Homo sapiens: one gene and its partner. The protein of the gene in region 1 purifies or fractionates together with the protein of each later gene. This does not show direct contact. Each region holds a gene or a part of one and is shown on either strand. Other genes may lie near its edges. The genes, in order: MTHFS and PLCL2.

What was found.
Region 2: the proteins of MTHFS (region 1) and PLCL2 purify together in Homo sapiens (affinity purification with mass spectrometry; 2 studies listed by BioGRID and IntAct, with this or other methods). This does not show direct contact.

What each region holds. Positions count from the first base shown.
Region 1 is NC_000015.10:79,893,306-79,902,130, reverse strand, and holds the start of MTHFS (5-formyltetrahydrofolate cyclo-ligase), read left to right. Parts: upstream 1-5,116; 5' UTR 5,117-5,142; coding exon 5,143-5,259; exon of another isoform or gene 5,260-5,340; intron 5,341-8,825. UniProt on the Homo sapiens protein: Contributes to tetrahydrofolate metabolism. Helps regulate carbon flow through the folate-dependent one-carbon metabolic network that supplies carbon for the biosynthesis of purines, thymidine and amino acids.
Region 2 is NC_000003.12:17,006,091-17,014,520, reverse strand, and holds part of PLCL2 (inactive phospholipase C-like protein 2), read right to left. Parts: intron 4,848-8,430; coding exon 2,361-4,847; intron 1-2,360. UniProt on the Homo sapiens protein: May play an role in the regulation of Ins(1,4,5)P3 around the endoplasmic reticulum.

The DNA of each region.
Region 1 (8,825 bases):
CTGAGTGAACAAAGGAATAGTCTTTAGAGAAGTGAGAAAGCATGATACTTGCCTGTATCTTTTTTTTTTTTCCCCATACAAAGTCTTGCACTGCCACCCAGGCTGGAGTACAGTGGTGTGATCATGGCCCACTGCAGCCTTGACTTACCAGGCTCAAACAATTCTACCAACCCAGCCTCCCAAAGTGCTAGGATTACAGGCATGAGCCACTGTGCCTGGCTGCCTGTATCTTTAAAAATTCTGAGGTTCTGATTTTCTTTAGATTACTGATACTGTATATTATTTTATGCTTTAGGTTTTGTTGAAACCAAGGTAGCTGAATTTAACAAACTATCACTGTTCCCAGAAATAATAAGGCCTGAACAATTCTTATTTACTACTGCATTACTGATAGGATATTGAATCCTTATTTGTATATTTATTTTTATATAATGGTCTTAAGATACAAATAGCATCATTAAAGAAAATATATTTGAAAATAACATTTTTGAAAGGAAGAAAAGTCACTCCCATCACCCTAACATATCCACATGCAGACATTGTATGCAATTATAATTAGGGTGTACATAAGAGTTTTTTGGTGTGACATACAAATATTTTCAACACTGTCTCACATACTCCATGTTAACATTAGGCATTAATTTCTAATGTCTACAGAATAGTTCATTAATTTGCCATATCATAATTTACTTAACCAATTCCCAATTGTTAGACAATTTGGTTTTGATTTTCCCCCTTTTATTTATTTATTTATTTTTTGAGACAGAGTCTCACTCTGTCATCCAGGCTGTAGTGCAGTGGCTTGATCTTGGCTCACTGCAACCTTCACCTCCCAGGTTCAAGCAATTCTCCTGCCTCAGCCTCCTCAGTAGCTGGGATTACAGGCATGTACCACCACACCCAGCTAATTTTTGAATTTTTAGTAGAGACAGAGTTTCACCACATTGGCCAGGCTGGTCTCGAACTCCTGACCTCAAGTGATCTCCCCACCTCAGCCTCCCAAAGTGCTGGGTTTATAGTTCTGAGCCACTTCGCCCAGCCTGGTTTTCCCCTTTTAGATATAATGGTTCAGTAGTGAAGCATAGGTATGCTTTTCTGGTGCCCCCTACCTTCCAATATTTTAGAAGACTGCCTCATGATAAATTTCTAACAGTGGAGTAACTGGTTCATAAGATGTGTGTATAATTACGATATTCTAGCATACTGGAAAACATATTTTCTTTTCGAAAGTATTATATCAATAGAACAATATCATAGCAACCTTATCAGTGTGGGTGGTACTATTAATAATTTTGAGGGTTTAATAGGCATCAAATAAAGCCACTTTAATAGGTCTAAAAAAAATAAGACTTTGTTAAAATGTACATTTCTTTAACTGCTATTAATGTTTTTCTCATATACTTGTGAATGATTTATATTTCTCTGTTTAATGGTCTCTCCTTTTTAAACTATTAAGGGCCTGAGAATTTTCTCTCACATTTGAATGAACACTTTCATGGTATATGTAAATATTTTCCTAGTTTATTGTTCTTTTTAGTTTTTCATAGTTAAAAAAATTTTTAATCTTCATCTGGCTGAATTTATCAATATTTTCTTTGTTCACTGTCCTTTCTTTAGACGTTGATGTATATGACATGTTAACTGATCAATGATAATAGACAATGATTATCGTTATAATAAAAGTCATTTCAGAGGGTCTCATCATACTTGCGAAATATGGTGTTTAGGAAGGGGCGTAATGAAGTGGATACCTCCCTAGAGTGTAATCTATGAGTATGTACTGGCAGAAGGGAAAGAGGAAGAAGAGGGGCAGTTTCCTTCCTCTGTCAAGGCATGACAGCATGTCTCAGAGCACGACGCACACTTACGTAGGCAGAAAATGGCTTTCTAAGTCTTTCAAATGAAATCCCCCTGGCTGGTGGTATTCATCTGCTTTGCCAGTGATGTTCATAAAATGATTCCAAGGCACCGCAGAGCTCTCGAATCTCTCCCAACTATCAAAGGGTTATGCTTGGTTTACGTTTCAATATTAGTTACACTTTGCTCTGAGCTACTTGCAGGCATTTGTAACCCCAGGTTCTGGAACCTGTAAGATGCAGCCACAAATGTTTGCTAGATGAACATTCGAAAAAATTATTTTAACAATTTTCGAATATTTTGGCACTTGTTTGGAAATGTATGGAGTGGAAAGAAGTAGGGTATTTGCATTCTAATCCAGGTCCAGGCACCAAGGGTTTGGCTAATCTTAGATAACTGATTTTTTTTGTGGGCCTCACTTTCCTCATTTGTTAAGAGAGAGCATTAGGCTAGATGATCTCAGAGGGACTTTTCAGTGAGGATTCTATGATTATAGATTGTAAATTAAATAAAATGTCCAGTTAATTGGGTTATCCTACATTTTTAAAACTATGTCCGATCACAAAGAGAGTAGATTATAAAAGAAACCATCAACCTTTTCATAGCTTCAAAGGTATTGGTTTAATTTGGATTTACTGTGAGTTCTCATGAGTTTCAATACAATGCAGTTTACAGTATAATAGAATTCATATTACAAATATAAGTGCATTGAAATCAATGTTGGACAATTAAACAAGAACAAGAACAAAAAGACTTTTTATCCTCTAGAGCTGTGCTTGCTGTTCACTATGGTAGTAAAATGTGGCTAGTCTGAATTAAGATACGCTGTAAGTACTAAATACTCATGAGATTTTGAAGGTTTGTTATGAAAAAAACTATCTCATTAGTGATTTGACATTGATTACATACAGAAATCATTATCACTAAATATATCTTAAAAATTAATTTTTCCTATTTTTGTACTTTTTAAAATGTGGCTACCAAAAATTAAAATTACAGATGTAGGCCACACTGTGTTTCTGTTACACAATGCTCCTTTAGAGGGATAGAAGATTATTTGCATTATTTAAATGAAAATATTTTTGCTTTTTATTCCAGCATACTTAATCTCCAATGATTTTTAAAATGTTAAATTTATTCTCTCATAGGAAAATGGCTTTGTAAAGAAGCTTGAGCCTAAATCTGGCTGGATGACTTTTCTAGAAGTTACAGGAAAGATCTGTGAAATGCTCTTCTGTCCTGAAGCAATACTGTTGACCAGAAAGGACACTCCATATTGTGAAACCGGCCTAATTTTTCTGACTCTTACGAAAACGATTGCCAACACATACTTCTACTTTTAAATAAACAACTTTGATGATGTAACTTGACCTTCCAGAGTTACAGAAATTTTGTCCCTATTTAATGAATAAATTGTATGTATTTTTCTCTATATGCCATTTTTGTCTTCAGTTTTGGAGTCTGGCTGGAAATTCAGCCAAAGGGTAAAAGCTCAACACAGGATCCAGGCAATTAATTATGGGATGATGACCAGGAAGGCGGTGTCTTTTCTGCCCCAGGCAGACTTTTAAGGTGTGCCATTACCCCAAAAGTCCTTTTCTGTGTCACTAGGCTAGACTGCAGACTAGACTGAGAAGCGGACTCAGGCTAGAAGCAGACTCAGGTCGGCTTCCCTCTTCCCTCCTTCCTTCCCATGCTTTCTGCAGTTTCCAGTGCCCCTGGCTGCTTAAGAGTTTCCATTGATGCCTCCTCCCCAGCCTTCTCTCTCTGGCTTGCCATTTGGGGTTGATGGATATGGCAACCTGATATGCAGGATACTCTGGGATATTCTGAACAAAGAAAATTGGTAAATGATTCAACGTGGAGCTAGTGTTAATTTTAATTTTTATTTTTTGGTAAAAATGAACAGATTAGAAAAGTACGTAGTTTGTTAGACCTCGTGTTCTAACTTTTAGGTCAGCAAATCTAATTGCACTATGTATACGCTGTACCTGCCTGGCCTTCCCTTTTTCTTACAACACAGTCCCCCTGGGACTTGCATTAGCTTTCCCTGGAAGCTGTTGATAGATTCCATAAAGAAGCCAGAACTCCCCTCTCAAGCCATGTGCATTCTCACCGGGCACTTAATTAATGCTTTACCTAGGAGGTGTGATTCTTAACGGTGGGGATTAAGACACTGGGGCGGTCAGTAGGGACGTATTTTTGGCAGAGACAGCTCTGGTTTTCTTAGGAAGTCACATCTGAGAGGCAACCGTCTATGCCATCTGAGGCGCCTGTCTACTGGGAGCAGTTTAAGACTTAACAGTTTCTTTTACCTCTTCCTGCAAGTGCCTCACCCACCCCCCAACTGCTTTTAGTTTTAATTCATTTTTGTGTTTTAATCAGAGCTGAGTGGTGGGAATGAACAGTCACTGATGGTTATAACAGGAAGTACCTATGTGGGCACTATTACCTGGAATACATTCACACTAGAAACCCGCAAAATTTGGCTTTTACACTACAGTTATTGCTTTAGCAGTGTTCCCGATTATGTATCATCTATACATTCATCACATAAGGACATTTCCATCAACCACTGTGGTCCCTTAAGATTATAATGGAGCTGAAAAATTCCTAATACCTACTGATGTGGTAGCCAACCAACACATTACCTTTTCTGTGTTTAGATACACAAGTATCACGGTGCTTACAATTGCCTACAGTATTCGGTACAAAATACGCTGTACAGGTGTGTAGCATAGGTGTGTAGTAACTTTGTGTAACTACACTCTGATGTTTGCACAAGAAGGAAATCGGGGCATCTGTCAGACCTATCCCTGTAGTTAAGCGACTCGTGACGATTTCGCTACATGTCCTGCCTTGCCCTTCTTTTCTGGCCCCTGAAGTCCCACTACTGAACAGTACAAGAGATGCCAGGCACCGTGGGTACTGCCGGCCATCTTTACCATCCCCGCCAGTGGCGCTGCCGCCTCCGCGGTCCCGGTGAGGGCCCAGGCTCAGGGAGGTCAGGCGGCAGGGCAGCGACGGCGCCTCGCCACCGCTCCCCTAACCGGGGAGGGCGAGCCGGACCACGGGGACCGCACGAGGGCTGGGTCCCAAGGGCCAGAGGCGAGGTAAGCGCGCGGCGCGCCGCGGGCCCGCGTCCCGGAAGCGGGGTGGGGGCGCTTCCCCGAGCCCCGACCCGCCCCTAGGCCGCGGATCCACCTGGGAGCGGCCAGGGGCGGAGACCGAACCCGAGGGCGCCCAGGGCGCCGAGGGCGGGACTGGACTCGGCTTGGGCGTGAGATGGCGGCGGCAGCGGTGAGCAGCGCCAAGCGGAGCCTGCGGGGAGAGCTGAAGCAGCGTCTGCGGGCGATGAGTGCCGAGGAGCGGCTACGCCAGTCCCGCGTACTGAGCCAGAAGGTGCGAGGCCGCCCGTAGCGGAAGCCGCGGCGGACAGACCCTCCGAAGGCCTGGCGGCCAGCGATTGCTGATCTGTGCATGGTCCGTGCTGGCGCTGGGCTAGGCGCCCCCCCACCCCCCGGCGCGCGCACGTTTCCCCTCCCGGCGCGCGCACGCCCCCTAGTCGTGGTCTGGACGCTCTTGGCACTATGGCGGGGAGAGGGCCCGGTAGTGAAAGTTGTGGGGCTAAAGAGCGAGAGGACGGCAGGGGTTGACAGATTTATCTCTGGGAGGGGAGTTTGTTTGCATGGGTGGCTCTTTTGGTGCTCGAAAACCCTCCGTGGGGATGACGGTGCTGTGGTGAGAGCACGGTGAGAACAGAAAGTTGTGGTAGAGGAGATGGGTGAACACCTGAGTGCCCAGGTTCCCTCAGTGAGGCCTAAAGTTAATGAGCTACGAGTAAGACTCCGGTTATATTAGTAAAATGGCCAGAGAAAGATGCAGGTGCTTTAGACGAGGGAACACCAAAAAAGGTGTGGAGATGCCAAAGGGCAGAACTCAGAGGTTGACTGGACTTCACTAAGCATATGGAGGGCTAAGGCTGTGTCTCAGTAGCTCCAGGGCCTAGGCTTTTCCTGTCTCAGAGTTGGTCAACATTAAATGCTTTTTCTTGAGTGAACGAAAGGAAGACTTGGCTATCATATCCAGGCTTCCCAAGAACGTAGGAAACAGAAGAGAGAAATGAGAGGAATAAGTGAGGGTCCGTGTTTGTTGGTTAGCAGACCTCTGTTTCATTACTTTCACCAACTGCACTGCTATGTATTTTTAGTCTATGTAATGTCAGTTTTCTTATCAATAAAATGGCAGTCATATCCTGTTGTGAAGGCATGTTCTAAAGAGTTTTTGGGGACTCATTTTTGTTAGACACCAGAGGAAGAAAAATTTAATGTCCCCTGAATAAGTACGTATTTGTAATTCTGTTGTAAGTCAAACTGATGATCTGTCTTCCCAGCATCATGCTTCAGAGACACCAGATATTTGGAAACTTGATGTTCCTTGGAATTAGTTATACCATCAGGCTTTCTTAATTACCCTTCACTATTCTATTATCCGTTATTTACTCAAATTCAAGGTGCCTATGGGTTAAAGCAGTAAAGCATATATGCTCATTTCACCCCTCTCTTCATCTATGTAGGTGTGTATGAGGGAATCTATACAGATGTTAATTCGTTCGTTCAAACAGAATTATTTTAGCTATTATGAGGAAGCATTGCTGGGTGTTTTAGTAGATGTAAAGGATATAGACTCTTGTCCTTACTATCTAGTTGTTTAAAATTTAGCTAATTCATTCACATATGTTGAACACCTATGTAGTGCACACTTGGCTATATACTGGGTTGTGGAGATGAAAAAGATATGATTGTTGCTCTAAAGGAGCAGAGAGCCTAGAAGAGGAAACAGACATGAATAAAGAATTGCATTGAAGCCAGATATATGATAAAGGTAAACACCAATGTTGTGGAAACATAGCCTTGGGGAGGGGAAATTGGAAAGCTTTCTATTGGAAAATGTTTGAGATGAATTTCGGAGAACAAGATGAATTCTTTCAGGTGAAGGGAAAGATGGGATAGGGGAGTGTGAGTAGGGATATTTAGGCAAGAGATGACAGGATACAGTTTAGCATGGGCTTTGGAACTGCACAGATCTGGGCTGAATCTGGCGCCATTGTTTTTTAACTGTATATCCTTGGACAGGTCTCATAATCTCTCAGAACCTTTGGTTCCTTGTCTATAAAATGGATAATATCACTCTTGTAGGTCGATTGTGAGAGTTAAAGAAGTGTGTAAAGGGATGTATTCAGAGCTTTACCTATTGTTTGTTATGTCCTTTAGGAAGAGTATAATGGCAGCATTTGGATAATGGGTTGAGGAAGGAAGAAAGAAAAAAAATATGGAGACCAGTAAGGGGCTGTTGTGCCAATTCAAGTGAAAGATGAAAAATATGCAAACCAGAGCATGGGCAGTGAAGATGAGGGGAAAGGAGGCAAATGGGAGACTGTTAAGTGAGAAACAGCAGGACTTGGCAACTGATTGGAAGAGGTTAGAGAATACTGGAAGGGGAGGAGAGTCACCAGTGATTCCAAAATTTAGAGCTTGGTATAATGGTGTTTAGCCTTAGGCATAAAGAAGGTAGGAATTGGAACAAATTTTGGAGGGGCATGGGGAAAATAAAGATGAATTCAGTTTCTAATCTTCTACGTTGTCTTTCTCCGTAGAAGATTAGAATTCATAAACTATAGATGGAAATAGTTTACATAGATACAGAGTCACTGACAGCAATAGAATGACGACTGAGAGCTGGCATTAAAGGAGGAGAGAGAAAAATTAAAAAGCAGACCCATGACCCTCAGTAATAAATACATTTTACTCTGTACAAACAAATATACACATACAAGGAACATTTTACAGCTCTTAAGCACATACAATGAAATTTAATATTTTCTTTTTTTTTCAAGACAGAGTCTTGCTCTGTCGCCCAGGCTGGAGTGCGGTGGCATGATCTCGGCTCACTGCAACCTCTGCCTCCCACGTTCAAGCGATTCTCCTGCCTCAGCCTCCCAAGTAGCTGGGATTACAGGCACGTGCCGCCATGCTCAGCTAATTTTTCTATTTTTAGTAGAGACGGGGTTTCACCATGTTGGCCAGGGTGGTCTCGAACTCGACCTCGTGATCTTCCCGCCTCTGCCTCCCAAAGTGCTGGGATTACAGGCGTGAGCCACTGTGCCTGGCTCGAACTTTAATATTTTCTATTCTATTTCATTTAAAAATTGTAGCCCACTATTGATTTCATGACTAACCAATGGATCATCACTGGAAACATCAGTGTACTGTGTAGTGTTTTGCCATAGTGAATGCTCAATAAAGGTGTTAAATGATGTCTTTCATTTAGAAAAGCGTATTTATTCTTATTGGCACTGTACCTTTTTATAACTTAGAAATTTATCAGAGAAGTAATTTAAATGGTAAAGAAATTCAGGTTTATGTCATATCTTGATTCCCTAAGATGAGGAAATTAGTGCCCCTTTACTCACTGTGTTTTCTACTCCCTCTGTCAGTTTCTGACATTTATATTGTTATATTTATGTTGTCAAGTTTTGTAATTTTTCTTTTTCTTTTTCCTTTTTTTTTTTTTTTTGAGAGGGAGTCTCGCTCTGTTGCCCAGGCTGTTATGCAGTGGCGTGATCTCGGCTTACTGCAAGCTCTGCTTCCCGGGTTCATGCCATTCTCCTGTCTCAGCTTCACAAGTAGCTGGGACTACAGGCGCCCGCCACCACGCCCGACTAATTTTTTGTATTTTTAGTAGAGATGGGGTTTCACCGTGTTAGCCAGGATGGTCTCGATCTCCTGACCTCGTGATCCGCCTGCCTCGGCCTCCCAAAGTACTGGGATTACAGGCGTGAGCCACCGCGCCTAGCCAGTTTTTCATTTTTTGAGACAAAGTATCGCTTTGTTGCCCAGGCTGGAGTGCAGTGGCGCAATCTTGGCTCACTGCAACCTTCGCCTCCCGGGTTCAAGGAGTTCTGTGCC
Region 2 (8,430 bases), on another chromosome or scaffold:
TATGGACATTTGTAACACCAATTTATCAAAAGTACTGAAAATGCAAATAAGTCAAATTCTTCTGAAGGGCAAGGCTTCTTTTCAGCCCAAAGTTCATAGTAGTGCTGATGCGGATATGCAACTATGAGCAAACAGAGCGAATAGCTTCTGCATTCAAAGAGGGTAAAGATTTAGGAGAAAAAAAAATCAAATCAGATTTAAAATAAGTATCAAATATGCCAGCCATACAAAAGGGAAAGAAATATTTGCAAGGTAGAAACCTGAATCTCTCATCTATTTATGCCTGCTGGCTCAAAATCTAAAGAACCTTTGAGGATGCTACTGTTCTCTGTTGAGTCTGCCCAGCAGGGACCTTGGTTACCTGTGACCTTCCCCTATTAGTGTCACTGCTGATCCCAATGCCTCTCTCTCTCTTTTTTCTAATCACCAGAGATATGCCATTTAAATACCCATTAAAGAAAAACCTTCAACACTATAAAATGCCATGAGCTGGCCTTCTATGAACACTTACTAAGTGCTAAGCCATACTAGGCATATTTATTACACATTACTTCCATTTAATCCACACAGCAAGCCATGTTATGGATGAGAAGACTGAGCCTTAGCTATAATCCTTCTCTGTTTGTCTAGCGTCACACAGCTAGTAAGTGAAGGAGTCAAGATTTTACCTGAAAGCTGCTGATGTTAAGGCCCATGCTTTGAGTCACCGTGAGTAATAACAGGCCAATTATAATCATAATAAGAGTCAGGTGGGCTATTTCAGGCACACTTGGGTCCTGGTCTAGGCCGGGCATGCGGGCAGAGGGGGTGGACCTAGGCCCTGCAGGCCTGTGCCTTCTGCTCTCAAATAATGCAGGTTCTTGGGAATGAACACTTTAGTTTTAAATTTAAACATTTCATTTTTATTAATATTGCTTTAAATATGGACATCAAACTATAGATCATTGGCTCAAATCACTTTGATATTGACAGTTACAGAAATCAATCATGACTGTGATATTTAAAGTGCAGTTCCCCAGTCACTCTTATTACACCACTTACTCATACCTGCAGTTGTTCTATTTGTTTATCTGCCTGCCTCCTGTCTGTTTCCCCTTCCCACTGCCTGCCCCCAACTAGCATGCAAGCCCCTTAAAGGCAGGCAGTCAATCTGTTTGTTCACCACTGCATCTTCATGGCCTAGATTGCTTGTGCATGGCAGGTGCTCATTCAGTATCACTACCGACTGCTTTGTCAGGTTCAGTGCAGATGAGGCTTTGGAAAAGACAATGCTTGAGCTCTGACAAATCCTCAAAGGAATTCTGTGTCACACACACCACAGCAGCCACTGGGCAGTGGACAATGCGCTTGCTCAGAGCTGAGGGTTTACCAAACCACTTTCACCCTCAAAAACAGGGAAAAGCCCTTCATATGTCTGTTATGCTTTTACTTTAAGAGAAAGAAAACAAATTTCCTTATTGTGGGAAGGTCTTTTATTCACGAAGTACACATAGAATTAGTTGATAGGGAAAAAACGTTGAATTTTCTCAGTCAGATTTTATTTGTTGGCATCATTCTCATTGGTCATTTTAAAATATAATTTTTAAAATACAAAATAAACAGACATGGAGCACTTATCACACACACACCACTTCTCACACACTATGACAGGTTAGGGCTGCTGTCTGCATGAGGCAGGCCCTTGCTGTCTAGCTCTGTGTCACTCAGGGGTCCTAGCGTATGGCTAGATGTGTGGGCGATCCTTAATTAAATATGTAATTCCTAACTGACTGCTTTTAGCCATTATATATTTCAGAGGTAATTATTATCTTAAACTTCTAATAAATACAGACATCTCTTTTACTTACAGAATTAGCTATCCTCTCAAATCAAAAGGAGGCTCACTATGCATACACATATATTTATGGCTCATTTAAAGGTTTCCCATCTCCTCAGCATTACAGCTTCGTAAGAAAGGACTGGATCACATCCATTTTACTTTGACCTATATCCTTTTTATTTTGATAGATCATCAATTTGTGTTCCAGGTAAGGAATATTCAGAAATCCCAGAGATTCCCATGTATACTATTAGAAAAAAACAAGGAACTGTTCAGCAGTCATTAACAGGGACTGGGATGAAGGTGTGTAACACAGCAACGAGACTCACTTATCCCAATATGTAATCAATATTTTCAACATCAACTGTACCTTTAGGAAGTTAAATGATAAAAAACAGACTAGTGGCAAACATTCTAAGAACTAATCAGAATTTAAAAACTACTTAAATATACTATTATTAAAAAACCAATATATTTATAAACTATGGACATGTACAAAGTAGGAAAACCATTGAGTAAATGATTAAACACAAGCACGCACCTGCATGTTTTCTCTCAGATCTGTGGCATCCCGTATAGGGGGCTGGGCATTCTTGAATACCTCATCCACGGTTTTAATCCACAGTGTTCTCAAAGATGCATATTCCCTGGATTTCTTCCCTTTTCTCACAGAAAGGCCCCTTTTATGAGGCTTTCCTCCTCCTCTTCGGTTAGTAATAGCCACGTGGACAAATAAAGAAGCATGTGCAAGGACCTCTCCAGTTAAGGACTGCAGGGGGACATGGCGGTAGCCCGTCTGTAAACATTCAAAGGGAATTGTGTACTGGCCGATGAATTCATCCCCAATGTAGTCATCATCCAGCACTACAAAGCGCACCATGGCCAGTTCAGGCAGGTTGATTTGAAATTCAAAGCTTTCATCAAAAATGGGAGCGTCTCCATTCTGGTGCACTGTTTTTGTCCTTTGTTCTGCACAATCAGCAGGGATTCCATGGATTTCAACATAGACATAAGGATCTACCACATCACCTTTGGCACCTGATCCTTTGGGCTTGGGAAAGTTCTGCCCACTGATGATTTTAATGTGAAGAAGTTGAGGTGAGACCCCTGGGACAGAGTCTTTTGTATTGGCGCTGAAGAAGGAGACCTCCTCCCTCATGATGGCTGGCCGGAGGACATAGCCACAGTTTCCGTTCTGCCTAAACCAGCCAATATTCAGGTCCATCATCAGTCCTGGTGTCTGAAAGTTCATGGCTACAATTTGGCAACCACATTTCCAAAAATCTTGAGGATTCATGTTACTGGAATCAATTCTCATTGGACTGGGAAAAACCCTAGCAAGAAAACGTTTGTTGTAATTTACAAAGTCCCCTGGATTTTCATTGGCGTACTTGCTGGCAAGCACTTCATTAAAGGAACAGACTTCCCAGTACTTCTGAACCTGAAACGACACCTGAAATTCTTTGAACTGAACTGATTTGCAGATGCTGACCAGTTCAGACAGTTCTTTACAAAGCTGAAATCGCTTCACAGGCACATTATTGGGTTGCTCCATGTTCTCTTTTCCCATCCTCTGAGACATTTCTGCTCCTTCATCTTCGTCAGTAACATCTCCTTCTACCCCAGAGCAATTTGAGGACAGCTTCTTTGCTTTAATTAGTATTTTCCCTTTCAGGACATCTGGGGATGGTAGATAAGATTCCTCAACATTGGGTGATGTTGTATAGAGCTTGTCTCCTAAAAGTTTCTTCATGTGCTGAACCATTACCTTCTGTTGTTTAATGGAACAGTGGTTTTCTAAACACAAGATAAGAGGATACTCTGAAGCAAAGAATGCATACTTGTTAATAATATCAATGACACTGCGGAAAACTATCTGAGAGGTCATGGTGTGGCCTGTGTAAATTACAGGTTCATTGTCCGGCCCATCCCATACATCTAATTCAACACTCCGGCAACCCATTTTAAGAGCTCGAATATATCCTGTGATGTCGGAGGGACCTCGGAACTGATCCTCTATTAAGTATGTATTATGAGATGAGTTTATAAAGTAATGAGACAGAGGTTGCTTCATATCCTGACAGACCTTCTTATGTTCTGGATCGAATATATAACAGTCAGGTGACATAAGGTAATTAGTGAACCCGTCTATGGAGAGCCAGCCCTTTTCCTGACCCTCTTTGGATGGTTCATATTTGTGAATAATTTCAAGGCTTATTTCCTCATTTATATGTGCCACACCCTGTTCTGCCTCAAGAAACATCATAAGGTCCTTGGTATCAAGGAATTCTTTATTGCTTGAAAACTGAACTAAAAGGAAATAAATTTCAGGTCTAGTACAAAGCTCATGAAAAACCTCAATAAATTCTTCCTTTGTGACCTCGGTACCAGCTTTGTCCTTTGATTTATGCAATTCTTTGAACTTAAGCTCAATTTTGCTCGTTTTTAAACCAGGATTGAGGTTTCTGATACATTGCACAGCATTACACAGAGTTATATGTCCAAGGTTATCTACATCAATTTCACTAAACATTTGTGAAACCCAAGAAGTCCTCATGTTATCTTGGCTACTTTCTAACATATCAAGTGTATGTTTTCCATAAGAAATTAGGTACCGCAGTCCTGTAACCCAGATGTTTGCAACATCTGCGGAGTTGGCAACCAAATCCAGTGACTCATAATTCTCTCCATATATGACGGAAAACGCACAATCTTCAGATATCTGGTCAGAAATGCCATTGCTGCGGAATATGTCTGTGTTTTTTCCTGTTCTCACTTCCTTGATGGATTTAATGTCAATCTTGGCTTTCTCAGAATCCTTCTTAGATGGCTCCCACCTTAGGCTCTGCATGTCAGCATCCAGTAAAAAGTACCTATGATAAATTCTAGAGTTGGAGCGAACCTTTTTGAGTTCTGAACCCTCAACCATTGAATTAATACAATCACTTGCACTGCTGATCTTCTTCTCTGTTGGCATGCTGCTGAATGAGACTGTCTTTTTCCGTTCCCTCTTCTGTTTTGTACCATCCTGAGAGGAAAAAAAGACCGTATATTAGAATAACATAAATATAGGTTTCTATGTTCAAGATTATGAATAGAAATTTAATTTCCTAGAAAAAAATCATACTATTAAGATTTCCTATTCTAGATTCCTGTGATGAATGATACTCATTCATCTCTAAAGCTCAGAATTGGCCTTGCAGTTGACAGCCTAATACCAACAGGTATGAAATCATTATTGAATAATTGCAATTCATATTTATCAAGAAGAACAATTTCAGGCCAGGGACGGAGGTTCACACCTATAAACTCAGCACTTTGGGAGGCTAAGGCAGGAGGATTGCTTGAGGTGAGGAGTTTGAGACCAACCTGGGTAATACAGTGAGATCCCATCTCTACAAAAAAAAATTTTTTTTGGCCGGGCATGGTGGCTCATGCCTGTAATCCCAGCACTTTGGGAGGCCAAGAAGGGGCAGATCACCCAAGGTCAGAAGTTTGAGACCAGCCTGGCCAACGTGCTGAAACCCTGTCTCTACTAAAAATACAAAAATTAGCCGGGCATGGTGGCGGGTGCCTGTAATCCCACCTACTCGGGAGGCTGAGGCAGGAGAATCGTTTGAATCCGTGAGGCAAAGGTTGCAGTGAGCTGAGATTGTGTCACTGCACTCCAGCCTGGGCAACAGAGTGAGAATCCGTCTCAAAAAAAAAAAAAATTAATTAGCCAGATATGGTGGCTCATGCCTGTAGTCCTAGCTATTCAGGGGGCTGAGATGGGAAGATTGCTTGAGCCCAGGAGATTGAGGCTGCAATGAGCTATGATCTTGCCACAGCACTCCAATGTGGACAACAGAACAAGATCCTGTCTCAAAAAATAGAAAGAAAGAAACAATTTTCAGAGCCCAGAGAAAAGTGAAAATGCAGGATTCCCTGATTAAAAATTATTAAGAATTTCAAGGTGACAGAGGAGCTAAGTGAAGCCCAGGGCTCTTCTGAGTCAGTGTGAAGCCTGTGCAACTGTACAGGTCATACACCATGAAACAGGCCCTGTTTCTACGTACGCCTCCTACACCAATACTTCTCAAAGGCTTGTCACCAGACCACCTGCCTCAGAATCATCTGGGTTACCTGGTTACAATGCAGATTGCTAGGCCCATGGAACCAGCTCCCTGGGGCTGGTGCCCAGGAATTTACATCAAGGTAGCACTCCATGTGACGGAGGATGTACACTAAAGTTTAAAAACCATTTCCTGACTACTTGGGCTAAGACGTCTAGACTATTTCTGGAAACTATTTGCACCAAATGATGAGAAACAGCTAAGTAGAAACCAATTAAGTAACTGTTAAATGGGAATTCCAGCAGAAATTCCTCTCTCCAAAGTCTCATACTAGATCAGTCATCAGTATACATCAGATAGACATGTAAGTCTGAGATGAAGGGCTAGATTATAGCTGTTGGAGCTCCTAAAATCGTAGAGTTGGATTTATTAAAACCTATTACTATGCCCCAATGCTCAGAACAATGTCACCTTGTACCTTAATATTAATAGATTATTAAAAGGACTAAGTTTAAAACTTCAGGCAGCACTTATTTCTAAAGAAGTTAGCATCACCAGTAAGGCACTGTTCAACTTTCCTGCTTAAGGTAACATGTTCTCATCTTAAGGGGCTGACATCCACATCTGTGTGTGTATTTAAGTCCTTCCTTGTATGGAGACCTTTATTATTTGAAAAGAGTGCTCAAATTACCTCAAAAGATCTTTCACAATTTTAAACCTAAAAGATGATACTGCCTTTCAGTATGTGTATAAAATCTATGACAAATTTTCAGTATTCATTGTATTTATAAATAAGAAATAGGGATGGGAGTTGGAATTATATCACTTTCATGACAAAGAAAAGAACATTGTTGAATATTATCCAAAGGCAATTCTAATTTTCCTGCTCTGGATAGAAAATATCTGTATTTTAAAAAGCTATTATGCTATACTCTATCTCTGAAATTTAAAACCACTTTTACTTTCTAACTACCTATACTTCCAAAAGCAATTTGCAGAAGGTAATTAAACTTAAACTTTAAATCATATGGGTATCATTTTCCTCAAAGTTTCAAAATGAACCATAGAAGCTTTTGTGATCTGGGTGCCAAGACAAAACATAAAAGCCACAAGGTAGAATATTTCTTTACAATTATATCCTCAGAACAATAAAGTGCAAAATACATAAAAACTGTGGTAATTGTATCTGTAAGATACATTATATTAAAGCCATTTCAAATCCCTAAAGCATAGATTGTATTACATCAATTTGAGTGAGTTAGCATGAAATTAGTTTTGTAATCAGCCATGCATAAGGACATGAAACAAATGTATAATTTTCTATTTTTCAGAATGACGTCTTTAGTTTTTTTTTCCCAGTAGAGACGGGGTTTCACCATGTTAGCCAGGATGGTCTCGATCTCCTGACCTCGTGATCCGTCTGCGTCAGCCTCCCAAAGTGCTAGGATTACAGGTGTGAGCCACCACGCCTGACCGATGTCTTTAGTTTTTAAAAGACGCATTTACCTTTGATAAAGACAACATACTGACTCAGTTAGGGAATTTTATAATCTTTATATATCGTGTCTCAAAGATGACACTAGTAGAACAATTACAAAAATATATGGATGTGGTTTATCCACTGATCCATTAAGAAATATATAGTATTTTCCCAACATTGTAATCTTTTATTCTTTCATTTTTACAGGCTGATTAATATTCTGTTACACTTTCTAATTTGTTATAAATGATACATTTCAGATAAACAGGTTTCTTTTTTATTAAGAGGGAAAAGGCCTAATAGCAAAGTAAGTTAATAACATACACACATGCTCACATACCCATGTATGTGGAACAGGCAGCAGCTTAAACACCACACTGTGGCTTTAAGAACATTGCCATGCTTTTCACAAACCAGCCCAGGCTTTGAATGGAGACTTCTGGTTATCAATTGCAGACACATGAACATGATGACCACCCAACCACGGGCAGATATAATGACATCAAGGACACCCCTTAGCAGAGACTTCCTGTCTCTTCCTCTCCCTCCATCTGCTGTTGCCTAGAACTGTCTCCATAGCACACCAAGGCCTGAATCTGCTTCTCCTTCCTCACTAGCAGATAAAGTGATCAGAAAACACCAATAGAGGAGTATGCTTGTTTAGAGACCAATAAGGAAGAGAACAGATGTGAGCTTGCACTCCTTAATGGGTGGACCAGAATCTCTGGCTGGGAGCAACAAGTGGATGTGAATACAGGAGAAGCTGGCGAAATGGTCTTCCACAGTCAGCAGAAAAGGAAGGGGAGGACAGAAGCACTTGTGTGGGAGGGAAGGAGAACTGGTGTTCAATGGCAGGAGACTGAGCCCCAAATTGCCTAATTCCTGGAATCCTTATCCCACTCTTACTCATTTCAACTTGTCTTTCATTGTTCAGCCTGGCAGTGATCAAATACTTGCCTAAGCTAAGTAGCTGGTCAGAAGCAGAGAGCTGGGATCTATTGTTTATGCTGCCTTGTAATGCAAGTTAGTTTAAACTAAATAATGAAGATTATTCAACCTACATGTGCTATACATAT